Linked DNA regions of Homo sapiens: all the other regions are reported to be linked to region 3. Evidence: microRNA targets listed by miRTarBase, many of them from high-throughput screens and not tested one by one. Region 3 holds a microRNA gene; each other region holds the end of a gene's coding sequence.

Region 1 (5,000 bases), not on the chromosome of region 3:
TTCTGGATGCTGAGCCAAAAAGCCACTACACCCTCCACCAACATTCAGAACTGGCTGTGCCCCAACTCTTCCAGCCACTGTCCTTGGGAGGAGAGACCTTTCCAACTTTCTTAAAAAAAATTAAATAGTTATCTGTCTGAATGGTTTTAAGAAATTATTACATAAATATAAAAACACCAGAATACTAGAGTATACATTACTTCTGCATTAAAAAAAAATCCATTGCAGAATCACTGAGAATTTCTCAATCCAGTTTACATGAGGCAAGTTTCTTTTCTATGATAGCTGTGTTTTTGAAAAGTTGCCTGTTTAGCCCATCATCTCCCCACCATCACCTCCCCATGGGAGATGCTTCATCATCATTTTGGATCCATGTCCTCTTGCGTACGTTTTTCTGCTTTCCCTACCCACTTGAGAAGCGGCTGATGCTCCTTAAACTGTGATGAAAATACATTGTGAAGACGGTTACCTGAAAGGGGCCTACAAGGGAACATCTTTGCCACACAAAGACAGTACAGCTTCGCTGTGTTGAGGTTTGGTTCTGGTAAAATGGGGACACGTTTATTTTGGGGGAACTCCCAACTCTAGCCAAGTCACACAGTAAGAAACAGGGTCCAGGGCTAAACGGGTGCACTCTCTTGCTGCTGGTATCCCCCTTGGTGAACAGTCCTACAAGCAGCCTGCAGATTCTTCTCCCTACATCTCCTGTAAGGACGAAGGAGTGGTGTAACCTGAGCTCCGGCCCTGTGGAGACCCTCATGAGGCCTGAGGCTAAGAATGAAACAGATCTTTGCTTCTTCCCCAGATTACTTACATACGTGCATGCCATGCACACACTACTTCAAACCTTTCTGTAGTCTTGAGTAAAAGCATTTAGCCTGGAATATGTCCAAACTCTAGGAAGCCAAGGGGAGATGGAGAAAAATAAACAAACTAAGCACATGATATGTGCTATAGCTCACTTCAGTATATTAACGATGGTTTAAAAAAATAATCACCATGGTCAATAAAAAAAAAAAAATACAACACAGACAACATAAGGACAATGGAGACGTCTGCCAGCAGCCTTGCCCTCATGTGTGCTCTTCCTAAGAGTCAAAGTCCCTGCTCCTGACTCCTCTAGGCTTGTCTCAAAATGTCAGGTCTACAGCCTGCCAGGAAGGTGGCCAACTGAGATGATGTTCCAGCACAGGCCTGTAATCCAAACCGGCTGGGGTAGCTACCTACGTATGTGCTGGAAGCATCTAAGTTACTAAATTGGGAAGAAGCGAGGTGGGGAGGGGAGAGAGGAAAGGGAATAAAAGTTGGCTCCTTGGAAGGTGCTGAAGACAAGGATCTGTGTCCCAGTGCTAGCTGCACTTGGGTCAGTCTCAGCACAAGCTGCAAGGTGAAGATGTCATGGCGGGGAGCCCAGGGCAGGGGCAACACACGCGGTCGTGTTGACTAGGTGAACGCCACTTAAAACTGCTATCCAGTCACCAGCACTCCTCTAGAACTGCCCTGGTTTCCTCTTGCCCTTTTCAACTGTCCTTTAAAAAAGTGTTTTAATATACAAATGCCATTCATACAACAGGATTTTAAAACTAAGAAAACTAGCTTGTGGCTTCAAGGAAGGACACTAATGTTACATACGCCCAAAGCACCTATGTAGCACTCTAAGGTGGGAATGGCACCATTTCCTAACCTCTTAGGTATGATCAAATTTATTTTCAGTGATGCCACAGGTGGGTTTGCCTACAATCCCACACATCCTCCTCTGGTGGTCTAGTCAATAAAGAAAAAGGGCCAAGGAAGTATCCTTTGGAAAAACACAAAACTCAAACTTCATGCTCCTAGAAGTAGCCTTCAGGTCTGAGCAATGAGGGTTCTAAGACACCATCCAAATGCAGCCAAACGTGTCATTTCATCACATTCAAAGTTCATAACCTGCCAAAGTATAGGCTTTTTTTTTCCCCCTTCACCTGGAGTAAGACACGACTTCCATAGATCACTGGATCACCAGAATCAGGCTGTGCCTGAAGCTAGTTCCCAAGCACCCAGAGGGCTGTGTGCCACAGGAAGCCCTCATAGGATCGTGCAGCAGGTGGATCATGCAGGCCCTCGGAAACTGCTGCCCATGGCTTTTAGGAGAGGAACCATGACTGCTCTAGCAGAAGCCAAAATGGAATATTTGGTTCCTGGGTCTCAGAGCTGGCTGGGAACATGAACACATGTACAGGAGGTTCAGGGGGCTTCCTGTGTAAGAAACAGGCCATAGATCATTTCACACCAGGCACATACTTCAGACTCACAGCATTTGGCCCTCTCAGAGGAAGTGAGGGGTTTTGTATTGTCTCTGGGTTCTGAGTCAACCCTCCTTCGAGAAGACTCACACAAGTCTGTCAAGGTGCTCCTTCCGTCTCTTCCTGTGTCCTCAGGAGGCTTGGGGAGCAGCTGTCCTACCTGGAAACCTCATGGCTAGAACTTCAGAGGCACAGGACCCTGCAGATGAGGCATCAGGAAGCCTCTCCATCTCCCTCTAACATCAGAAATCTCATCACATTTGAGCTGTATGACTTGCCAAAAGTATATACACTTCCTTCCCTTCACCTGGAATAAAGCAGGACTTCCATAGGAAATCCCTTGATTTTTCCTGCTATAAATTCATGCAAAAACGTGGGATAGGTCATTTTATACAAAAACAGCAGCAAAGAATAAAGTACCAATTGAAGGTGGCAGTTCTGTCTACTGTGTTCTGCAAAAGGCTGGGAAAAGAAGAGGACTCTTTTTTCTTTTTTCCAGTTGAAATAATTTAGACTAGTTTTCTCCCTAATTGCTGCTGGGAGCAGTACTTGTTACACAATACAACTGCTATAGTTGTCACCGGTGATCCTCTACCGGGAGCTAGATCATCTTATATCCCAGGGGGAAGATGACAGACCTCTTTGTACCAAGCCTGCAATTTTCAAAGGTGTAAAAATATTTTAATAGCCCTTTTCATTTGCCTATGTTGGCCTGAGATGTTTCCCTTCTGGTGAATTTGCTTCTGTAAATTTCAGCTTGCAGAAGTGCTGGCAGGTATCTCTTCAACAAAACCTGGAAAAGCTTCACCTCAGGAGAGAGAAGGGAGAGAAGCAGTTGCTGGGTCTCACTCAGGTTTCCCAGTCAATGTGCCAGCCCAGGATTTTTAAAGAAAATATATAAACCAAACATTTAAAAGAGCATATGATAAAGTTGATTTAATGAATGCAACTGACTACATAAACCAATATAGCCGTATGCATCAGAATCTGGAGCAAGCTCTTACAGATGACTGGAGACGCACCCAGTGTGGTGCTGCCTGAGACCAAATGCCATCCCACGACAAGGGCCTCCTGCTTCATGAGAACACTTACCGTCATTCGAATCTCTTTGAGATTAATGTGATAATAGACACTATACATTGCATATGCACTGGGCCTCAGCAGATCCTTCCAACTTTTCAAAGTGAAAAAGGACAAACGTAAGTGAGTTTTTAAAGAGGTGGCGCTCATCGATTTTTCCCGCTGTCCTGTGTGCAGGTTCTGCTGAACACGCACCTCCCAATCAGTATGTTCTGAGAGGGGAGGGAGACAGACAAAACTCCCTCCCTCCCCATCCCAAGTCTATCCAGCTCACAAGGGGCAAGGTCTGCTGGAGTGGTGGGGCGGGGCGGGGCGGGGCTGGGCTGGGAATGTTCACTGGAAGAGGCACTGTCACAAGCGTCAGAGAGCTGGGCATGAGGTCTGCATGGCCCTGCGGGCTCTTCCTACCTAGAACGCCCTTCCAAGGTGAACTCCACACTGCAGTCCTAGACAGAGGGGTGTTTCTGGTTGGACTGTGACATCCCAGAAAGCTGTCACTCAAAAAAAGAGTCTGGGGGGAGGGGGCCGGTGGTGTAATACTACCTGTTCTGCTCACTTAAGCCACCAGAGCAGACGCCATTTCTTGCCCTTCAAAGTGGGGCCAAAGGGTAAATGTGTTTGGCAGACACAGCTGTTCATAACATCCACCTCTGGGTTTGCTCGTGTGTTTCAGAAAACAGGTGGGTGCACCCCTTCAGTTGAGGGAGAAAGATTTCTTCTTCCTTGACAACAATGGGTTGAGTAGAGTTCCAATTTTCTCCACCTCCTGCATGGCCATTTTCCCCAAGCCTGCCCTCCCCTACCATACTTGATGTCTCTAAGACACACTGGAACAGCGGATGCTTGGGGAGCCCATCTGGGTGAGGACCTTGTCAAGCCACTGCAAAGGCCCATTCAGGTGCAGCTCAATCCAGCAGGGGGTACTGGTCACAGTCTGTCTCCTGTAAGAAATAGGGAAAGGGGTGGGGTGGGGGACTTAAAAAATCTCCAGGGGGTTACACAAGTCAGAAAGCTTTTTCTGCTTTGGTGACAGTCATCTTCCCAAAGATGCTGTTAGACGCTGTCCTAGAAGCGGTACCAGTAACTTGCTGAAACTACCCGGCCAAACTCCTCTACCCAGGGAGGACTTTGAGTAAATTAAGTTCTCTTGAGGGGGAAGGAAGTCGACTTTAAAGAGTTAAACATGTAAAGTCAATGGCAAAGAGTTAAATATGTAAAGTCAATTGCAGGGTACCCCAGAGGCCCACCAGTTACTGTAACAGGCCCCCTAATAGAGGAGACCTCCATCCTGAGCAAAGGGCTTCCTGGCTCCCATCTGTACCAAACGGGCACGTGCCGCTCCCCTATCTCGAAATCTGGGCCCAGCCCCAGCAGGCGACGATGACGTGTGTCTGTCTGATTGAGGGGTGTTTTTTACAAAGCGCCAACAGTGTCCGCATGCCTTCGGTTCCCAATGTGCTGATATAATTCTCATCTACGGCCTTATTTTGGAAAATCTTACAAGCAGAACGAGCCATGGAACAATTACTGGAAAAAAACAAGGCACACCACACGTTTCTTTTCCCCAAAGCACTTTGTCTAAATTCAGGCTGGTTGATGACGCAGCTTGCAGGCAGGCTCCCAAAGGCCTCCACTGAG
Region 2 (10,909 bases), not on the chromosome of region 3:
CTTCAACAGTTCCTGAATGCCTGAAAGACAGTCTAAACTCCTTCTCACGGCATGTAAGCCACTTCATCATCCAGCCTCAAGTTTTCCAACTGCTTTCCTTGTCTCCCCAACATGAGACTCTGGCAATATTGTGTTCCTTGTGGTTCCTTCCAATACTCTGTTCTAAATTTCATAACCCAGTGCGTTAGTCTAAGCTGTTCCTGTTGCCTCAATGTCTTTCCCGTTTTGTCTGTTAAGTAAAATTCTATCATATTCTAATTATTTTGCATTTAAGTTAAGAATTATAGGCTGGGTGTGGTCAGCACTTTGGGAGGCTGAGGTGGGCGGATCACTGGATGCCAGGAGTTCGAGACCAGCCTGGGCAACATGGTGAAACCCCGTCTCTACTAAAAATACAGCCAGGCATGGTGGTGCGCATCTGTGATCCCAACTACTTGGGTGGCTGAGGTAGGAGAACTGCTTGAACCCAGGAGGCGGCGTTTGCAGTGAGCTGAACTGCACTGCAGCCTGGGTGACAGAGCGAGAATCTGTTTAAAAAAAAAAAAGAATTATAATTACAATGAGCAACGAGGCAGCTAAATCATCTGAATGAGGAAGGTGAATTTATCAAATGAATGGTCAGCCTGTAAAAGGTAAATAATACAAGAGATGACAAGCAAGGCTATTCCCTGAATAAGGAATAAAGTAATGGATGTGTCTTAAGTGACGGTGTGAGGGATGTGTAGTGATTGCTTCAGCTCTCACAGGAACCAAAGGGGAAATCCTACAGAAACACAATCCTGGAACCTTCCCATTACTACCAAAATGCAAAGTATTGACAGAGCAGGACTTTGCTGAAGGAAATCTCTAAGCTCTCTTCTCACGTTATTTAGCTGACTGAAAAGTCTGGGCCATGCTGACCCCTGGTGGAGACAATGGGCCACTGCACTCCAAACTGGTGGCGAGGCCGGGCGGGAGGCCAAGACGGGTAGATCGCTTGAGGAAAGGGGTTCAAGATCAGCCTGGCCAACACGGTGAAACCCCGTCTCTATTAAAAATACAAAAAATTAGCCAGGCATGGTGGTGCATGCCTGTAGTCCCAGCTACTCGGGAGGCTGAGGCAGGAGAATCACTTGAACCTGGGAGGCGGAGGTTGCAGTGAGTTGAGATCACGCCACTGAACTCCAGCCTGGGTGACAGAGCCAGACTCTGTCTCAAAAGAAAAAAAAAAAAACTGGTGGAGAGAATGAGCCACTGCAGTCCAAAAAATATGGGAACAAAACTTTTTTTTTGTTTTGTTTTTTTTTTTTTTAAGACAGGGTCTCACTTCGTTGCCCAGGCTCACTGTAGCCTCGACCTCCTGGGCTCAAGCAATCCTCGTGCCTCAGCTTCCCAATTAGCTGGGACTACAGCCGTGCACCACCACACCTGGCTAATTCTAAAATTTATTTTGTAGAGATACGGTCTCCCTATGTTGCCCAGGCTGGTCTCGAACTCCTGGGCTCAAGTGATCCTCTCACCTCAGCCTCCCAAAGTGCTGGGATTACAGGCATGAGCTACCATGCCCAACCACCCTCTCCTTTTATACTCATTCGTTTTAATGAGCACATATTCTGTGGTAAAGGGAACACTAAGGCCCTGGGGCAAAGAGAACACAGTATTTAATCACCTTTCTTAAGAATTCATGACCTAAGCCGGGAGTGGTGGCTCATGCCTATAATCCCAGCACTTTGGGAGACTGAGGCAGGTGGATCACAAGGTCGGGAGTTCAAGAACAGCCTGACCAAGATGGTGAAACCCCCATCTCTACTAAAAATACAAAAAAATTAGCCAGGTGTGGTGGCAGGTGCACGTAATCCCAGCTATTCAGGAGGCTGAGGCAAGAGAATCGCTTGAACCTGGGAGGCGGAGGTTGCAGTGAGCCAAGATCACACCACGGCACTTGAGCCTGGGCAACACAGTGAGACTCTGTCTCAGAAAAAAAAAAAAAGGATTCACAACCTAATGGGTGATATAGGTTTCACTCAGCAGCACTGGGGAGAATGGAGACAAGTTAGACGGCTGATGCAGTTGACAGTGGGGGCTGGTAGGAGTAGGGGGAATGTGATAGGGATTCAGTGACAATCAGATATGTGAGAGGAGACAGACAAGCCAAGGACTCCATGGTTTCTGGGCAACTGGCTGAATATGGGTTGCAATTCATGAGATTCCCTCACTTGCTTAACCATTTCTGCTTTTCAAGCCATAGGTATGGCTTTTGGGAAGTCTCTTCCCACCACTCTCAAATATACTAAATCAGAGGTTTCTCCTTTGTTTCCTGAGCATCCTGTATGACTTCAATCATGGCACCTAGTGAATTATACTGCAATGGCCCTGTGAACTCTTGAAGAAATCATGTTTTGTGAAAACGAACAAAGAAGGTAGGCAGTAGTCATATCATGTAAAGCCTTGTGACCATGTAAGGGAATTTGAGGCAGGCACATTAACAGATTTAAGCAGGGAGGTTGCATGTCTGACTGTAATGCCGACATTGAATTAGAAGCAGACAGATAGAAGCTGGCAGATCAGCTTAGAAGCTACTCACATTTCTACATTGAAATGAGAAAGCCTTGTCCAGGCGCGGTGGCTCATGCCTGTAATCCCAGAACTTTGGGAGGCAGAGGCGGGCAGATCACCTGAGGTCAGGAGTTTGAGACAAGCCTGGCCAACATGGCAAAACCCTGTCTCTACTAAAAATACAAAAATTAGCAGGGCGTGGTGGTGGGCGCCTGTAGTCCCAACTACTTAGGAGGCTGAGGCAGGAGAATTGCTTGAACCTGGGCAGTGGAGGTTGCAGTGAGCCGAGATTCTGCCACTGCACTCCAGCCTGGGTGACAGAGTGAGACTCAGTCTCAATAAAAAAAATAATAAAATAAAATAAATAAATAAAAGAAATGAGAAAGCCTTAAGGCCAAGGATGACAGTGGCCTGAACTAGGGCCATGTGCATCATTCAAGGCAGTTACCACTCTGGGAGAGGAGGAAGAATTTTTGGTTAGTTATTTAGGCTTTTAAATATCTAGGCCAGAAGCCAGGTGTGGTGGCTCACACCTGTAATCCCAGCACTTTGGGAAGCTAAGGTGGGTGGATCACTTGAGGTCAGGAGTTCGAGACCAGCCTGGCCAACATGGTGAAACCCTGTCTCTACTAAAAATACAAAAATTAGGCCAGGTGCAGTGGCTCACGTCTGTAATCCCAGCACTTTGGGAGGCTGAGATGGGTGGATCACCTGAGGTCAGGAGTTTGAGACCAGCCTGACCAATATGGTGAAACCCGTCTCTACTAAAAATACAAAAATTAGCCGGACGTAGTGGCATGCGCCTGTAGTCCCAGCTACTCAGGAGGCTGAGACAAGAGAATTGCTTGAACCCGGGAGGCGGAGGTTACAGTGAGCCAAGGTTGCGCCACTGCACTCCAGCCTGGGCAACAGAGTGAGACTCAGTCTCAAAAAAAAATTAGCCAGGTGTGGTTGGTGGGCATCTGTAATTCCAGCTACTCAGGAGGCTGAGACAGGAAAATTGCTTGAACTCCAGAGGCAGAGGCTGCAGTTAGCCAAGATCAAACCACTGCACTCCAGCCTGGGTGATAGAGTGACACTCCGTCTCAGAATATACATTTTAAAAATATATATCTAAAATCCTTTTTTGAGGGGTAGGAGGATGGAGGTGGGATGTATGTTGCTATTGCACTGGCCAGCAGAACCTTGAGAAGTGGACTGATTAAAAAAATGTAGGCCTGGCATAGTGGCTAACACCTGTAATCACAGCACTTTGGGAGGCAAAGGTGGGAGGATGGCTTGAGCCCGAGAATTCGAGAACAACTTGGTCAACAAAGCGAAACCCCCGTTTCTACAAAAAAGTTAACGGGGCATGGTGCGTGCACATGTGGTCCCAGCTACATGGGAGGCTGAAGCAGGAAGATCGCTTGTGCCTCGGAGATGAAGGTTGCAGTGAGCTGTGTTTGCGCCACTGTGCTGCATGCAGCCTGGGTGACAGAATGAGACCCTGTCTCAAAAAATAAAATAAAATGGAATGCAGATCGAAATGTTCAATATAGGCTGTCCATAATCTCCTACCTCATACCCTGAACCAAAATATTGCTACTCTTGGTTAAGTTCAGAAAACTGAATGCTGAGTTAAACCATCCGTTCCTAGCCTTGAACATACAAAACCAACATTAACAGTATTTATGTATTTACTATTAATTATAAACAACTGTGAATTACCCAATGGTTGCTATTTGCCAATATATATCTAGATTAATTATTATTATTTTTTGAGATGGAGTCTTGCTCTGTCACCAGGCTGGAGTGCAGTGGCAGAATCTCGGCTCACTGCAACCTCCCACTCCCTGGTTCAAGCGATTCTCCTGCCTCAGCCTCCCGGGTAGCTGGGATTACAGGCGCGCGCCACCACGCCCGGCTAATTTTTGTACTTTTGGTAGAGGCGGGGTTTCACCATATTGGCCAGGATGGTCTTGATCTCCTGACCTCGTGATCCGCCTGCCTCGGCCTCCCAAAGTGCTGAGATTGCAGGCGTGAGCCACCGCGCCCGGCCTAGATTATTCTCACTTAATTATTACTAAGGTCTGTATATAATTTCTATTTTATAAATTAGAACACTAAGGCTCAGAAAAGTGGAGTGAGTTGCCCAAACTCACACAGTGAAGCCGGGATCAAAGCTAATTACAGTACTGTCTAATTTTAAAATCTATACTTCTAAGCATCTGGCTACACTATATCTCTAAAAGTTTTACGTAGTTCAAATGTGAGCAGCGTTCGTCTACGCAGAAAAACTGAATAAGCAGCATTAACCGCGGGCAGAAACAGAACAGAAACCACTACCTTGGCGGCCGCCCGCCCCCGGGCGTCGCCTACGTCATAACACTGCGCGGCCGCCCCTCGCGCACCACGTGCTAGGGGAGCGGGCGGGCAGATGGCTGTGTCTGTAAGCGGGAGGCGTGCCCGGTTCATCCAAGGCGCAAGATGGCGCTGCTTTTTGCACGTTCTTTGCGCTTGTGCCGCTGGGGAGCCAAACGATTGGGAGTTGCCTCCACAGAGGCCCAGAGAGGTAGGATTATCTCTTTTTACTCTTTTACCTCCAGAATGGCTGCCGTCTATTATTCCCAGACCCCACTCCGAGAAGCAACTCCAACCCTCTCGGGTCTTTTCCTTCCCCACCTGCCTTGGTCTTAAGATTCCAAACCTGTGATACCATTTGGTTTCTTTAAATTCCGGGACTTACTCAATCCGAGTTTTTCAGCTCCGTGAGCTATCCGTAGTAAAGCGACCTCGCGACTCTCTTGCCCGCTTGGCATTCTGACTCTTCCCTAGTTGCTCGTGTATCATGGCTGCCTGCCTCATATCTGAATATATCACCAGCCCTAGGGTTCTAGCCCCTGTTATTATCCCGTCTTTTTGCTCTGCCCGCAGGCGTCAGTTTCAAACTGGAAGAAAAAACCGCCCACAGCAGCCTGGCACTCTTCAGAGATGATACGGGTGTCAAATATGGCTTGGTGGGATTGGAGCCCACCAAGGTGGCCTTGAATGTGGAGCGCTTCCGGGAGTGGGCAGTGGTGCTGGCAGACACAGCGGTCACCAGTGGCAGACACTACTGGGAAGTGACAGTGAAGCGCTCCCAGCAGTTCCGGATAGGAGTGGCAGATGTGGACATGTCCCGGGATAGCTGCATTGGTGTTGATGATCGTTCCTGGGTGTTCACCTATGCCCAGCGCAAGTGGTACACCATGTTGGCCAACGAGAAAGCCCCAGTTGAGGGTATTGGGCAGCCAGAGAAGGTGGGGCTGTTGCTGGAGTATGAGGCCCAGAAGCTGAGCCTGGTGGATGTGAGCCAGGTCTCTGTGGTTCACACGCTACAGACAGATTTCCGGGGTCCAGTGGTGCCTGCCTTTGCTCTCTGGGATGGGGAGCTGCTGACCCATTCAGGGCTTGAGGTGCCCGAGGGCCTCTAGTATGTCCATTACTGGAGTCCCTAATCACGCCTTTGGCCAGCCTCCTTTTGAAAGTGTCCGAAGCCTTTTTACTTTGCCTCAAGCAACCTCTAGCTCCCACAATTCAGTGTTGGGTCCTCTGTGCAATATCATGATCATCTTCCTCATCCCCTACCTTGTGAAAGCTAGGCATACAGCCAAACCCTCCTTTTCCCCACCCACCAACTACTGCCAATTTCCTAGGCTACCATGGGTGTATCTTCCTTGACCTGCTTCCTTCAGTCCCTCTGCCTCCCTTTGCCCAGGCCTTTCTCAGACTGTATTCCATCCTGGGGTCTTATCATTCAGCTTTGTTTGAATTTATTAATCACCATGATACCTCTCCCTCCCTTTGTCCACATGTAACTTGTTCTTGGGGCTCTACCAGATGGCTGAAGAGTAAATCCTTTCTACCTCTGGCTGAAGGAGTGGTGCAGTCAATGACTTGGCCCTTTTTCTACAGCACATTTAGAGTTTGGGCTCTGGCTCCCTCAGTAAGTGCTTTATTAACTCAGTGTGTCAAAATGAAAACAGAGCCCTCCTTCCCCAGTAGCTCAGTGCCACAGACCTTCAGCCCCACACAGCTGTAGCTATCCTTACCCTGAGTCCATCTACCTTAAATCTGTACCTCTGACACCCAGCCAGTCTGTCATAATCATTATCCCAGTTATAACCTTGACCAAAGGGGAAGAGAGACACTTGGGGGATATCTAGGGGATGAGTGCTAGAAACTATTTATTTATTTTTGAGACAGAGTCTCACTCTGTCACCCAGGCTGGAGTGCAGTGGCATGATCTTGGCTCACTGCAAACTCTGCCTTTTGGGTTCAAGCGACTCTCGTGCCTCAGCCTCCTGAGTAGCTAGGATTACAGGTGTGTGCCACCATGCCCGTCTCATTTTTATATTTTTAGTAGAGATGGGGTTTTGCCATATTGGCCAGGCTGGTCTCGAACTCCTGGCCTCATGTGATCAGCCCACCTTGGCCTCCCAAAGTGCTGGGATTTCAGGCGTGAGCCACCACACCCGGCCAAAACTGTTTATTCTTGAGAAGTTCCATCTTCATTTCTGCCACAGTTGGAACTTCCCGAGGAAGGAAGGAGGCCTGAGGTTTTGCACAATCTGTTTCAGAGCCTGTTTAGACTCAAACCTATGCTTCCCTTGGCAGCAGAATACACTTAACCTAAAGCAGTATTTGGAGTTGAGAAAAACCTGGTGGGGTAAGTGAATATGTACTGTTTGGTAGGGTAGGTAGAGAAGCTGTGCTTTGACCCTGTGATTCCATCTTTTTCTACCTTCTATGATGGTGATGAAGCTAGATACCCCTAGGGAAGAAAGAAGGACTGGGTTTAGCAAAAATGATTTGGTAATTAAAGTTTATTTGAACACAAAATACTTTCTCTGTCTATAAAATTGGCTGTTAGCAGTAGCAGCAGCATGTCCTGGCCAAGGGGAGTAGATTTCTCCAGACTACTAAAGCCATGTATATAGCCATTCCCACTTCCCATATTCTGTGGATATGTACATGTGCATGGTAGCTAGAGTCCCTCCACCAGAGTATCTCTCTCATGATGGTTTCTTCAGGGAGAGGAAGAGGAGACCTGGGTGAAGAGCTGGGATGGTTTTGAGTGGGGCAAGCCATTAGGCTGTACCTTGAAGCCCAGTCTCTCTGGATAGCTGTACTGCAGGTGTCCTCTGAGGCCCTTCTCTGTACTCTGTCTGCTGAGGGAATGGGGTATTTTGACTCCCATAGAAAGCACTAGCCTAAGTCACCAAATGACTGCTTGGTCCCCACTGAAGCAGTGTAGCTCTCCATAGTATTTTTGGTGGTTATGGATTACATGTGTGGCCAGCTCATGCTTTTTCTTGAGCAGGGGCTGTCCATGACCTGTGCTCATACCATGCTTTCTAAGTTCTCTTTGGACAGGGCCTCAGCTGCTGCCTCAGCCTGAGTTTCAGAGAGTGTGTAGGAGTCCTGGTAATCTTGAAGCAGTTTGACCACCTCCAGATGGTTGAACTGCACAGCATCATCCAGGGGAATGTTGCCCCACCTGAGAGGAATAATGATATGATCAGGCAAAGGAGACGTGGAGAGTGGTGGTTGTATATATTTGCATGGTGGCTGGAGGGTAGGTGGAGAAGCTGTGCCCACCCTCCTCCACTTTTAGCCTATTCCTCACCTGTCCTTGGCAAAAGGATTCACTTTGCAAGCCTCGATCAGGAATTTAACAACTTCGATGTGTCCTAGGAATATGGGCAGAAGGAAAATGAGAAGGCGCAGGTCTTGAACCCTTTGGTGCAGACACTTAGCCACTGAAGTCTTTACCAAGAGGGGAGGGGAAAAGGCCTCTTCCCATTTTGTACCCTGCAGCACTCAGTCATAGTCTAGCTGCAAACCGAAGGGTGTCTAGATAAAACTAGTTGCTGCCCCTATAACCTTGAGGGCACATATAATGAAGGTACTTTTGGTGAAAAAGAAAGGGTCTTATGATTACCCTCCTCCTCCCCTCCTTAACCCTTCAGTACCTTCAGCTGCAGCAACATGCAGAGCTGTGCGCGAGTCATAGTCTTTCTGTTCCATATCCATGGCTGACAAGGCAAACCTGAGGGTAGTGGGAAAGCAGCTAGAGTTGCCTAGATCAGACTGGAATCACAGGTGTTCTTTGTGAACTGGTGTCAGACTGGATGAGTTTCAGAGAAAGTGAAACAGCCTATAGCCAGATTTGTTGGCTCTGAATAATCTTTTTTCCATATCCAGATGAGACTGTTATACTCATATTAGAGAGATGGGAATGTGATCCTTCCAGAAATATCACTCACTGCCTACCTGTGGTAAGTGCCCATTTGAGGCAGGGTACCTACTTCCTAGGACACTGCTCTTAACACTCAATAACAATGGCTAACATTAATTATCATAGAGCAGACAGTTTACTTTTTTTAAAAAAAATCTCCTTTTTTAAAAAAATTTCATTTAAATGCAATCTATATCCATTCTAATTCCAAAGCTGAAGCACTTAACTATTTTGTTACGCTGCCTCCTAGTAAAATCTCTGACCAGGAGTATTTTATTGTGTATATTTGGTCACAGTAGCATTACCTTCGAAGAGCTGAGACATCGCCACTATAGGCAGCAAATAACAGGTTGACCACAGTCTTGTTCTGGAACACAAATCATACCCACATGACATTAATTGAACTCACCTATGCCAGCTGTGCCCTGTGACCCTCCTCCATGGATGCTTAGTCCAAGGGTATTGCTGAAGTGTTATGGAATGTGCTACTCTGAAATATTCTTTTTTTTTTTTTTTTTTTTGAGACGGAGTCTCGCTCTGTCGTTCAGGCTGAAGTGTAGTGGCGCGCGGTCTTGGCTCACTGCAACCTCTGCCTCCCGGTTTCAAGCGATTCTCCTGCCTCAGCCTCCCAAGTAGCTGGGACCACAGGCGCGTGCCACCACGTCTGGCTAATTTTTTGTATTTTCAATAGAGACCAGGTTTCACCGTGTTAGCCAGGATGGTCTTGATCTCCTGACCTTGTGATCCGCCCGCCTTGGCCTCTCAAAGTGCAGGGATTACAGGCGTGAGCCACCGCACCTGGCCTTTGAAATATTCTTACAAGCCACCTGGAGTTTTCCTTACCCGAATTTCTGCCCCTTCACGCCGTGGGTCTAACTTCCGAGCACAGTGCCTCAGGTTGTCATAGTTGTGGAAATTGAAGAGAGACACCAACTTCTAGAATTGTAAGCCAAATATATTGTTTATTTACTCCTTACACTTAGTAGGAGCTCAAAATTGCTTTATTATAGTAAAAGTGGTACCATTAAACAAATTTATTGCTTCAAAAATAGTAAGTACTATATGCAAAGCATCTCACCTGGCAGAAGCTGGTCCCCCTATGGCTGTTCCCCAGCTTGTCCAATGGGGGTGACAGGCACATCATTCCCATGACATTGGGTACCACCAGGAGGATGGCTCCTGATACAGCTGACTTGGCTGGCAGGCCCACCTGGGGAACAGAACTGAAGCTGAGGATAAAGTGGGTGTGCCCCAAATCAGAAAATAAACAAGTTAGGCTGTACTCTTAACAAGTTTACAAATGACTGCATGACCACAATCCACCTCAACCTTTTGGCTTGTTAATTAGCTTCTTTTATTACTCCTGTCCTTTCCTTCCCTTAAATTCATTGATTCAGCTAGAAAATATTTTTTGAAATACTTACAGCATTCTGTGCTAGATGCTGTGCTAGAACTAGGAACTTCCATTCTGGTGTTAGGAGATAGGTAATAAACAGGTAAATAAATAGACACGTAATGTTTAAAGTAATTGTGATAAATAGTGAGAAGTAGGGTGCTGTAAATAGAGGTAGAGGGGGGCCACATGAGATAGGGTGGTCAGAAAAGTCTTTCTTTGGAAATGACATCTAAGCTGAGACCCCAAGGAGAAGAGCCAGCAATGTGAAGCACAATTCAGGAGCTGCAACACCTCTGGTTGTTTTTCTTTTTCTTTTTTTCTTTTTTTTTGAGATGGAGTTTTGCTCTTGTTGCCCAGGCTACAGTGCAATGGCACAATCTCGGCTCAGTGCAACCTCTGCCTCCCAGGTTCAAGCACTTCTGCCTCAGCCTCCCAAGTAGCTGGGATTACAGGTGCACACCACCACCCCCGGCTAATTTTTTGTATTTAGTAGAGATGGGGTTTCACCATGTAGGTCAGGCTGGTCTCGAACTCCTGACCTCAGGTGATCCACCTGCCTCGGCCTCCCAAAGACATCTCTTTATATATTCGAGGAACTTGGTGTTTTTGAGAAACTCGTCTAAGGAGTCTCAACCTAATTGCCTTCCTGGAAGTTAGTGAATGAGAGGCAGGAACAAGCTTCCACCTCTATCTTGAGAGAGTCAGTGTTCTCTCTTCTT
Region 3 (10,909 bases):
CAATGTACCCGTGTTGATGTAAGGCTGCCCTTTCTCCATCTCTGTGTGTCTTTGTTTAACCCTCACATTCTCTCTTTTTTTTTTTTCAAAATACGGAGTCTCACTCTTTTGCCCAGGCTGGAGTGCAATGGTACGGTCTCGGCTCACTGCAACCTCCGCCTCCCAGGATCAAGCAATTCTCCTGCCTCAGCCTCCCGAGTAGCTGGGATTACAGGTGCCCACCACAGTGCCCAGCTAATTTTTGTATTTTTAATATTAATTTTATTTTTTATTTTTATTTTGTTTTATATTTTATATATTTATTATTTTATATATTATTTTCTATATTATTATAATTATTTTATTATTAATTTATTATTAATTTTAGAGGGTTTCATCATGTTGGCCAGGCTGCTCTTGAACTCCTGACCTCAGGTGATCCGCCCGCCTCGGCCTCCCAAAGTGCTGGGATTACAGGCGTGAGTCACTGCGCCTGGCCTGCCCTCGCCTTCTCTTTAAAACACCTAATGATACGAGGTCTGGGAGTCCTGGGCTCCTGGCATGACCCATGGCACGGTCTGATCCCCTCTGCCTCAAACTCTGAGCCTCCAGCCACGTGTCCCCTACCCATCCGTGTCCTTCAGAGCTTTGCGTGGGTCACGAGGGCCTCTGTGCTTAGGGTCCCCTTGCAGGGGGCTGGTGGTGCCCCCAAAAGACAACCACATCATAGCCCTGAAACCTCGAATGTGACCTTATTTAGAAGAAGGGGCTTTGCAGGTGGGGTTACGTCAGGATCTCTAGTGACATCACCCAGGGCAGGCCCTGAATCAATGGCCTCTGCCCCCCTGAGAGGGAGGTGGAGAGAGGAGACGCAGACGTGGGGGAGACGCCGTGGGACTGGGGGGCAGAGATGGGTGACACGGCCACAGCCACTGATGCCTGAGCTGGCAGGGGCTGGGGAGGCAGACAGGGTCCTCTCCTGGAGCCCCCAGAGGGGTGCAGCCCTGCCTGCCCTGTGGCTTTGGAGTTCTGGCCTCCAGATGCGGGCGTAAGCGTCTGTTGTTGTGCCTGCCTGTGTGGTTTTTCAGCAGCCGGGAGGAGAAGCCACCCTTTCGAGAGTGTGGTGCCCGCTCCGGAGCCGCCTCCCCGACCCACGCCGGGGCGGCAGCCTGGGGGTTCCCCGCTCTGTGTCCCTGGGGCCTGAGCTGTGGGGGAAGAAGGGGCCCCGGCTGTCCCTGGGGAGTCCCTGGAAGGAAGAGAGAGCTCTCGGAAGCGGGGCGGTGGGGGGCGTCTCCCACCGTCCTCCTGGTTCTGTCCAGCTGGGAACAGTGTCCTCGTCCCCTCCCCGCACTCCCACCTTGCGCCTGGTGCTCAAGCTTTGAGATGGTCCCGCTGGACCCTGGTGCGGAGCAGACCCAGGAGGCCCCTCTGCCCTCTGGGAGCCTCAGGTCAGGTGGCAGGTGGGGCTGGGGCAGGTCCTGGGCTGAGTGGCTGGGCCTTCGGGGAGCAGGGCCCACTTGGTGGGGGTGACGGGTGGGGGGTTCCTTCGGTGGCTGCTGTGGCTCTCCAGGCTGGGAGCAGCAGATCCGGGTTCGGAAGCTCTGACTCTGGGAAGGGGCCTACGTGTGTCCCCTCCTCCCTGAGGCTGAGGCAGGTGGCCTGACAGGAGCTGATGGGGATGGGAAGGACTCGCCCAGCTCCTCTCCAGAACTGGCCCTTCCGGGAACAGAGCAAGGCAGGGTCCTTGCCCCTGGGCTGGGAGGGAGAGCCCCGTGTTCATCTTTGTGGCGCACCGGCCTTTGGAGGATGTGATCTGGACACACACCTCGGAGGACGGGTTTCCTTGTGTGGGGGGAGAGGGGGTGCAGCGGGCAGGTCCCCCAACCCCTGCAGCCTCCCCTCCCTGGGGCCCCACACAGGCCTGAGGACTCCCCACCGCCCTCAGAAGCCCCCAGGCTCCCCAGCCAGGCACTACCTCGTCCCTCACAGCTTTCCTGAGTTCAAACTTGAAAACTCTGCCCCTTAATCCCAAAATCTGGGTGGTGTGGCAGCCACGGATACCTGTAGCCCCAGCAAGGTTCCTGCGCAGGGCAGGTGGGAGCAGGACCTTGGGCCGTGGGTGTGCCCGGCCCGCGTGTCCAGGTGGGTGCAGCCCCCAGGGCCAGGCAGAATGGGGGAGGCCTGGCACCTCTCGGGCAGTGGGTGGGGTCTCCAGGCAGGCCAGGCCCTGCCACTGGAAGGGAGGTGGCCCCTTTGCCACCAACCTGTGGCTGTCACCGGGGCAGGTGTGGCTGGACCAGGAAGCCCTCCTGGCTGGCGCCTGGCTGCCTCCATCCTGTCCGCAGCCCTCGCTCCTGCTGGCCGGCACCATACGCTCTTGGTCACCTGCTCAGAGAGGCCCCCCAGGGCCACCGGCTGCCCCCTCGGTAGCTCCCTTCAGCACAGGCTGAGGTGTCTCCACTCAGGGACTCCCCCTTCCCCCAGAACCTTGACCTGAGCTGACCACAGGAGAGTCAGGGAAGATTCCTGAGCAAAAGAAGGAGGGAGGGAGGGACGGAGAGAGGAGGAGGAGGGAGGAGGGGGAAGGAGGGATGGAGGAGAGGAAGGAGGAGGGGGAGGGAAAGAGGAGGGAAGGGAGGGAGGGAGCCTCTCCCAGGAACCTTGGGGGCCTCCGGGGCCGGATGCAGTGTCTGGGGTTCTGTCCTCAGCTGGGCCCTTTGCACGGCGGGGGTCTGTGCACGTGTGGTTAAAATAAGGAGCTGGTCCAAGCATGGGTGCGTGAACTGCAGACTTTATTACTATACAAAGACTTTTTTCTGTTTTGTTCCCGGTGCTTATGGAGAGGAGGAGGAGGAGGAGAAACCGCACAGGGAGGCTCTGGGTACGGCCCCGCCAGCCCCAGCAGGGTCCTTCCTGTCACACCCCGTGCAACGCAGCAGGCGCTGTGGAGAGTGAGCCCCACTGCAGTGTGGGGCGCAACTTCATCCGAGGGGTGCTTGGAGGGACTGGCCAGACGGGCACAGCGGTGAGGAGGTGCTGGGATGGGGAAGGTCCCCGAGCTCCGGGCGGTGTTGGATGAGCTCAGGCTCACAGGTGTGGCCCTGCCTGGCCCGAGCTCTCCAGGTGTGTCCAAACCTTGTGTTATATGCACCTTGCAGTCCAGGGCTCACCCGTGCGGTCTGGTGAGGTGGACGCCACATTCTGGGGGTGGCACTCCAAGTTCTTCCCCACACACGTCGCTCAGGCGGCAGCAGCATGGGGGTGGTTTCAGCTGGCCCTGCGGGGGACTGCCCCATCTCCCCAGGGAGGAAAGAGGGTCTGGAGATAGCCCCGGGTGGGGGAGGTCAACCTGCAGATCCCGGCTTGGGGACAGCTCCAGATGACACCTCGTGAGCCGCCTGGGGTGGAGGGGCCCCCAGTGCAGGGCTGCGTGGCCCCAAGCACCTGCCTTCCCTATCCCATGGTCTTGCAGCTGGGCACCGGCCCCGCCCGCCTCAGCCCCAGAGATGGGCCCTGGAGGGAGAGTGTGGTCTGCATCCCACGGCTGGCCCCTGGAGGAGGAGGGCCAGGGCTGGCCCCGGGAACCTCCCAGAGGTCTCTGCGTCCTGCTGCCTGGCCGCTGAGACGCTGTGACATTGTCCCTGCTGGGCATTTGTGCTCCTCCGTGCCCTGGGCTCAGGCACTTTGGGGGGCCCAGCTGCTTCTGTCTCAGCCTCCCCAGGTGGCGAGGGGGCTGGGGCTGTGGGGTGGGGCTCCGGGTATCTGTGACTGTGACCCCAGGGGCCAGGCTGATAGCACGGGGTCCACAGCATCTGCCCGGGGACTACAGCTCGAGGGCCCCAGGAGGCCGGGTGGGCACAGGCCATGGCGAGGGTGGGGCACAAGAGCCCCAGACCCCGGCGGCTTTGCACTGATGGGCTGCGGATGGGCACAGGCCATAGTGAGGGGGGCATGAGAGCCCCAGACCGGGCGGCTTTGCACTGATGAGCTGCAGGGCAGGCAGCTCTCTCCTCTAACGGTGATCAGGCAGCGGATGGACGGTTTTACCAGACAGTATTAGACAGAGGGCCAGGTCTAACCATGTCTGGTAAGACGCCCATCGGCCGGCGGTGGTGTGGGTGGCCTCCGGGTCCTGGGCTGGTGTCTGCGGGGCCTGTGAAGGGAAGGCCCCGGGGGCGGCTCCTGCCACCTCCTGCAGCTGCCCTGATCCCTCCTGGGTCTGCAGAACGAGCCCCCGAGGCACTTCCCTGACAGCCCCCATCCCAGCACCTGGTCCCAGCCCAGCCTGGCTGTGTGGGGGTACCCGGGAGCCACCTGGTCACCCAGGCCCTGCTCTTGGCAAAGGTTCCCTGCAGCCCCTCGCTGGCTTCCTGAAGCTCGGTCGGGTTAATGAGTAACAGTGAAGGGCAGCCTCTCCCCGGTGGCTGCCCCCTCCCCAGGCTGGGGCCTTGTGTGGGGGTGCGGTCCCAGGCGCCCTGGTTGCAGATGGAAAAGATGAAACAATGGGTCATCCTGGCCTGGTGGGTTTTGGACAAAGTTCCTGTTCTTGTTGACTGGGGGAAGGAATGAGACCCCTTGTCCCTCAGAGGGCAAGCGCAGAGCGTCCCCGCTCCCCTGCATGGTGGGGCTCGGGAATCTGAACCCACCTTGTCCTTCCTGCGCCCCCAGCAGACCCTCCACGGAGCCCGGACCACGTGAGAGAGGCCACTGTTGCTCTTCCCTCTCCAGCCCTGGCATCCCAGCCCTATGGCCTTTCCTGGAGCCAGGTCACCCTAAAACCCAGCCTGGGAGGTTGGGTGGGGGAGGCACAGCGGCTCCGGGAGGGGGAGCAGGATGCCCTCCAGGCCACCTGTGGAGGCACCAAGGGGTCCTCAAGGTGTCAGACCCAGCCTGGGCGTGAGTGACCCCGGGGGCACCCCCGGCAGAGGCCGGCCCCTCCCCTGGGGGCTGGACTTCGGAGCTGACACAGGCCCTCTGCCGCCCGCTCAGCCCTCCGCCCTCACCCGTCTGCTGGCCCCGCTCGGCCCTCCGCCCTCACCCGTCTGCTGGCCCCGCTCGGCCCTCCGCCCTCACCCGTCTGCTGGCCCCGCTCGGCCCTCCGCCCCAGCCCATCCCTGGAGTAGGAGCTCCGGATGTGCCTCGGTGGTGTCCCCGGCGAGCGGCGGGTCACCTTTGAACATCGTTACCAGACAGTGTTAGAGTCAAGCTGGGAAATCCAGCACTGTCCGGTAAGATGCTCACAGGGGCCCGGGAGGGACGTGGGGTCCCGCCAGGCAGGCAGGGGCTGCTGTGGAAGCCCAGGGAAGAACCGGAGCGGTGAGCAGCCAGGGGTGGTGCCGGGACCGGACAGGGCTGGCGGAGAGGGGCTTGGGGGCCCTGAGACTGCACACAGGCCCACCCTCCCTGCTTCCTCCAGGGCAAGGGGACCCTGGGGCTGCTGACCCGGGACCAAGGCGGGGGCACTGGTCTGCTCGGTGGCCGGCCCACCCTGTCCGGCAGGAGGGAAGATGGCTGTGGCCAAGCTGGGTGGGGCGGCTTCCTCTGGGTTCCACGTGGCTCCCGGTTGGGCCTTGCCCTCCTGAGCCCTCTGTTGGGTCCTGCTCGGCCCGCACCTGCTGGGTGTGACAGCAGCTCCCGCCCAGGCGCTGTGGGCAGGGCCCGGACACCTGAGCGTCCTAATCCCCAGATCACTGTGGGGCGCCCTGGGTGCAGCTGCAGGAGGCCTTGCATTCCGGGGTCTCTGAGATGCTGGTGGGGGGCGCCCCAGCCCCCTTCCGAAGGTCACGTCCCCCCGTCACTCTCCCCAGAGCCATCTGGCCCGGACGGGGTGGGGTCCGGTGAGCGGGCTGTGTGGGAGGGGAGTGTGGGGCTCGGCGGGAGGCCCTGGGGGCCGGGACGGGGTCGGCCGGTCGCTGCGTGCAGGGCTCCGCCGTCATCATTACCAGGCAGTATTAGAGACCTGACTCCATCCAATGCTGCCCAGTAAGATGGCCACGGCTGCCCGAGCTGGGTCCGGGGGCCGCCCGGCTGAGGGTTGCATGGGACTCGCTGGGAAGCTCAGTAGCTGGGGGGCCTCGTCCTCCTGGGGCACTGAGGACAGCATCGCCGGAGGGCAGGGGCCCGGGTGAGCCCCACCCGCCAGCCCTGCCGAGTCCAGCAGCCACCAGCTTTGGGTCCTGGGGTGGGCACCTGGGGGGCCGAAGTGTCCTGGCCAGACGGCCGAGGACTAGGTCGGAGTGGGGCTGACACGGGCCCTCTGCCCGCCCCGCTCGGCCCTCTGCCCCCACCCCTCTGCGGGGGACCTTCCCTCTGGGTGGTCCCATAGGAAGGCCTGGACAGCAGCCCCAGCCCCCCGGGCCCCACGTGCTGCCTTGTCTGAGGCAGGGGACAAGGGCCTCTGTCTCCAGGATGGTGTTCCAGGAGCTGCTTCCCTGCCCAGCCCCTTCTCTTCTCAAAGGCCCGGTGTCTGCGAGGCTCTCGAGACAGAACGGTCCCCGCCACCTGGAGACCCCTCTCCCATGCTGCCCCGCTCACTGCACAGCGTCTGAGGGCAGGGGGTGCAGGCGGGGGTGGGGGTGGGGGTGTGGGTGGGGGTGCGGGCGGGGCAGGCTCCTGACCCTGCCCAGCCGTCCCTGCGGTTTGTGTGTCTGCTGGTCTGGGGTCTGACCCAGGCACAGAGGCAGACCGGCCACAAACACAGACACAGGCAGTCAAGCCTCAGACGCCGCGAGGGCTGAGCCGCCTCTGCAGGGGGGCAGGAGGAAGTGGGCAGCCCTGTGGCCCCTCCTTGCTCAGGGCCCTGCCTGGAGCCCAGAGACCCTAGGCTTCTACTCCAGGCACACTCAGGACCCGAGGGAGGTTCAGCCCTCAGGCCAGACCAAGGCTCCCCGCCCGCTGGACACGCCGTCCTTCCTGTCCTCCTTCCCACCCTTTCTCTGCAACCACCTGGTGCCAACTGGGCCCAGAGAGCTGGCCAGAGCCACTCTTCAAGTTTTCTGGCACCTTCCACCCACAGAGGCTGTAGGTGGGGCGCAGGCCCTGTGCCGATTCCCCTGTCTGCCCGCCGACCACAACAAAGGTCGTGTCCGCCCGCCCCCGCCTGCTGCCGGGTCCACCCGGTTCCAGTCTCCTCCTCCAAAGGCCACGTCTCCGAGGTCCTGACCCAGCTTCCCTCACGCCTGGACCCTCTCCGGAGACCCCACACCAGGTCCCCTGCCCTGGCCCCAGCCTGTCAGGCTCCAGGGCACCCGGCTTTCCCTTTCCATCACCTCACAGGCCTTCGCCACCAATGCCATCAAATCCCATCAAATCAGTGCTTCAGGAACACAATTTCACCTGTTTTCTGAGCTAAAGGAAACTAAGACTTCCCGTTCAGAGCAGAGTTGAATTTCAGCTCCATTCCTGGCTGCCAGGTCACGTGGGGAGGGCAGCAGGTGCCCGGCACTCGTCCCTTGCAGCTGGGGCCAAACACAGTTCCCAGCCCACCCGGCGGACGGGCCGGCCTCCCACTGCCAGGTTCAGGGCCCGGGGCCAGTGTCCCCAGGCCCTTGGCCACCCAGGGCCAGCCTTCTCAGGAACCCCACAGGGCCAGAGCTGGCCTGGCCACCCCAGGCTCATCAGTCATTGCGTTCTCACCCGGGAGGCTGAGGGGCACACGGCAGAGGCTGGGACCCAGGGACAGACCCGTGTGGCAGGCAGGTGGGAGAAGCCTCCTTCCTAAGTTCCAGGGCAGGATTCCCAGGCGCCTCCTGAGTGCAGAAGCTGTAAAGCCAACGAGCAGCTAGCAGGAGAGGCCGACCCTGGCTCCAGGGCTGGGTGGGGAGATGGTGGCCTGGGCCGGCAGGCTCAGCTGGGGGACCAAGGATTTCGCAGGGCCTTGTGCCTGGCACAGGGGTGAGGGGCAAGGAGTCGGGTGGGCAGGCGGCCGAGTCTTACCGTGGCCACAGGTCAAGAAATGAAAAGCGAAAACGGACCTTCCCTGTTTTCCGAGAGCCCCACGCGGCGCTTTCTTGTCAACCGTCGCCGGGAAGTGGAGCTAGCGTGGCGGTGCCGGTTGAGGTGTTGGGTTAATCATCACCGCGGGGCCAGACTCAGCTTGGGAAAATCCAGGAGTGAGTCAGGAGGCCCAGAGCCGCCCCAGCAAGGGGTTCTCTGCGGAGCACACTCCCCGTGGAGGCGCCCCTCGGCGCACCTGGCCGCCCTGCCCGCCTGCCTGGCCGGGTCCCACCTGCACAGGCTGGGGTGGGGTGGGAGCGCCCGGCGAGGAATGTGATCCCGGCGTGAAAACCTAACTTGTTGGTTAACCTGCCCGACGGGCTTAATCAATGGTGCGGCCTCGAGAACAAAGTGTGAAATCCAACCCTCCCCGACCGCGGGAGCCGAGCCGGGAGTCAGAGGCTGCCGGGGGGTGGGGTGCGGAGCTCGGCCTGGCGGGCACTCAGGTTCTTCCCTCTGCGTCGCCGGAGCTACGCGTCTGGGAGGCAAAGCCGCCATTTCACCCACACGGCGGGCGTGGATTTGCAGCCCTCGCAGGCCGGCTGTGAGCACGGCCCGTGTGTCCGGGCCACGTCCACCCGCCCCACAGAGAACACACCAGCTCCTCCAGGGATCCAGGGGTGCGCGACCTCCTCGGCCCATCTCATCTTCCTCTAGATACTAAAAAATGTTCTGACAAACTCGTTTCGCAAATAAGTATTTGCAAATTACCAAAATGTCTGAAAAGAACCGCAAACTGCATCCGCATTTTCACAAATGCAAACCTTAATTTTGCCAAATTCAATGTGCTGCCAACCATGCTTTTAAACATTTCATCTGGGTTACTAGAAAAACAAAACCAAACCACGTCTTTCCCCAGACACTCAGCGTAAACGGGGCCTGAGACGCTCCCGGGGGGAGGCCTGAGACGCTCCCGGGGGGTTAATTAAAGCATCGGCTCTTCACGCCCTAAGAATTTTGTTCATCAAGAACAATGAACCTTACCTCCCGCCACCATGATCAATCAGTTCCCAAACTTCAAGAAAGCCAGTGATCCGGGCTGTAAAACCGTGTTCAGGTGCCCCCGCGGCAAGTTCAAGGCTGGGCCTCGGTGGGTCGGACCTTGTTCCCGGCTGCGGCCACCGTACTGAGCCGTTTCACATTTAAGTAAAAAACCTCACGAGAGACGTTGCCCCCACCCCAGTCATAGCGCGGGGCCTGGGAACCGGCTCCAGCTTCTCCGGGCTGAGCCCCACCTGTACCAGACCAGCCACGACCCCAGGCACCAACCTCACCGCCCATGGGCTCGGCCGGCCTCTGACCAGAGGGTGCTGAAACCAAGCCCTTCCCACCGCAGACTCCAGAGCCCAAGGGAGACGCGGTCATCCTCGCACCCGGCCAAACCCTTCTACGCACCCACCTCTGAGGCGACAGCTTCCCGTCTCCGCACAAAGTGCCTCAGGACGGCGGTGGCTGCTTCTGGAGAGAACTTTCTAGAAGGCCTGCTGTCAGGTAGGCGGCAAGAACGTGACCCCTCTCGGAGCCTGCCCTCTGCCCAGGCCCTGCCCTGAGGGCACCCCATGCCTGGAGCCCACACACTGTGCCCGTGCCCGGAAGACGCAGCCCGTGGGTCCAAGATGGCTCCACACCCGAAACCCAGCCGCATCTGCGCAGGGGCCCACCTTTCCCTGGGGGGGGGAAGGACCCGCTCCAGCCTGTGTCTGCAGTGACCGGAGCTCCCCTGGACGCTGGCCAGGCTGGCGACAGCCCATCTGTCACCTGCGCCCCTGCCCCACGTCGGCCACGGCGGGGGCTGGCGAGGGCCCCCCTGCAGGGAGCCGCCTCCCCCTGCGCCTCAGCCTCCCCGCTGCCCGCCCTTACCTGCCCCGACAGGTTCCACTGCTGCGGCCGCGGCCCAGGAGCCGGGTTGAGGCTGCTCCCGCCCCGACCCTGCAGCCAGCGCCTCCCCTGTGCCAGGCCCGGGTGGGTGTGAACCGGCTTCGGAAGGAATGGGGGGCACCTGAGCCCGTCCGTCCCGGTCCACGGAGCTGGGTGCTCTGCCTCAGCCAGGGTCAGGCCTCAGGGCGTCCGTTGGCGCGGGGAGACCTGCAAGGGTGAGCTTCCTGCCCCCGCTCAGGCGAGGCCCTGGCACAGGAAGTCAGTTCAGACCTGCACAGGTGGACAACTCGCCCGTCTCTGGGAGAGTTTCGAGGGCGACGGGACAATGGGAGGCGGTGGCGAGGTGGGGGCCTCGGGAGGGAAGAGCCGGCTCGGCGGGGGCTCGCCTTACAAGGAGCAGTGCTCCCCGCCCCACACAGGTGCGAGCTCCCGCTGGCCAATCTCCGCTCCTGGCCCCCGACAGGTGTGTCCCCTGGGCTCCCATAGGCCGGGCGGGAGGCGGGCCAGTGACGGTGACGCAGGCCCGGGCCCCGCAGGCCCCGCAGACTCCGTCCCGCCCCCACCTTGCCGCCCACCGAGGTTGAACAAAAGCCAGGATGGGAAGGCTTCTGTGGGGCCCGTGTGGAGTGTGGGCGACATGGGCAGGGGTAGGGGCAGCCGCGGGCAACTCTCGCCTCTCCACCTCTGCCTCCCCACCCCCCAGCTCCGCAGGGCTCCTTCCCAGGCTGCCTTAGAAGCGGGTAGGGTGGCCCCAGGGTGAGGGGTCACAACCTGCCCGCCGCCTCCCTGCAGCGGTGGTGCCCTGTCCCATGGGGCTGAGGCCTCTCATGGACAGAGGGCAGGGGCCATACCTGCCTGTCTTTGCTCCAGGCCCGCAGCCCTTAATTTTGGAGCAATGAAGGGACCCCCCGTAGGCCCAGGTGGGTCTCAGGATCGGTCTCCTCGCCAGGGGCTCGGAGGAGCTACGTGCCCCCAGTCCCACCCCAATGGGCAAGAGGCTCCGAGACCCCACAGACCCACAGCTGGGGGAATGAGGGAGGGGTGTGGGTGCCTTCCT

Evidence for each region. The annotated mature microRNA hsa-miR-200a-3p reads UAACACUGUCUGGUAACGAUGU and lies in region 3 at 5,156-5,177, opposite strand. An mRNA with a match to its seed (bases 2 to 7 or 8) in the 3' UTR can be bound and repressed. Matches are read on the target gene's strand: a 7mer-m8 pairs with bases 2 to 8, a 7mer-A1 pairs with bases 2 to 7 and ends in A, and an 8mer does both.
Region 1: the mRNA of SMAD3 is a reported target of hsa-miR-200a-3p. The part of its 3' UTR that is shown has no 7-base or 8-base seed match.
Region 2: the mRNA of SPRYD4 is a reported target of hsa-miR-200a-3p. Seed matches in the 3' UTR shown: 7mer-m8 at 6,092-6,098, 7mer-A1 at 9,264-9,270 and 7mer-m8 at 10,893-10,899.

The regions. Positions count from the first base shown.
Region 1 is chr15:67,189,716-67,194,715 of GRCh38, reverse strand. SMAD3 (SMAD family member 3) reads right to left here. Exons shown (of 9, transcript NM_005902.4): 9 at 1-4,303. The coding sequence ends at 4,180. Among named protein-coding and RNA genes, the nearest start is that of SMAD3-AS1, 45 kb to the right of the region's middle.
Region 2 is chr12:56,463,591-56,474,499 of GRCh38, forward strand. It overlaps SPRYD4 (SPRY domain containing 4), which reads left to right and starts at 4,988. Exons shown (of 2, transcript NM_207344.4): 1 at 4,988-5,086; 2 at 5,449-10,909. The coding sequence starts at 5,002. The coding sequence ends at 5,987. GLS2 (glutaminase 2) reads right to left here. Exons shown (of 18, transcript NM_013267.4): 13 at 9,873-10,004; 14 at 9,638-9,730; 15 at 9,100-9,161; 16 at 8,529-8,605; 17 at 8,183-8,246; 18 at 7,362-8,053. The coding sequence ends at 7,897. RefSeq lists enhancers at 4,656-4,725, 4,736-4,915, 5,236-5,285, 5,706-5,835.
Region 3 is chr1:1,162,184-1,173,092 of GRCh38, reverse strand. It overlaps MIR200A (microRNA 200a), which reads right to left and starts at 5,230; the gene lies at 5,141-5,230. It overlaps MIR200BHG (MIR200B, MIR200A and MIR429 host gene), which reads right to left and starts at 10,216. Exons shown (of 2, transcript XR_007065348.1): 1 at 9,835-10,216; 2 at 2,755-9,458. It overlaps MIR200B (microRNA 200b), which reads right to left and starts at 5,989; the gene lies at 5,895-5,989. MIR429 (microRNA 429) reads right to left here and starts at 4,088; the gene lies at 4,006-4,088. It also overlaps TTLL10-AS1. RefSeq lists an enhancer at 1,720-2,287.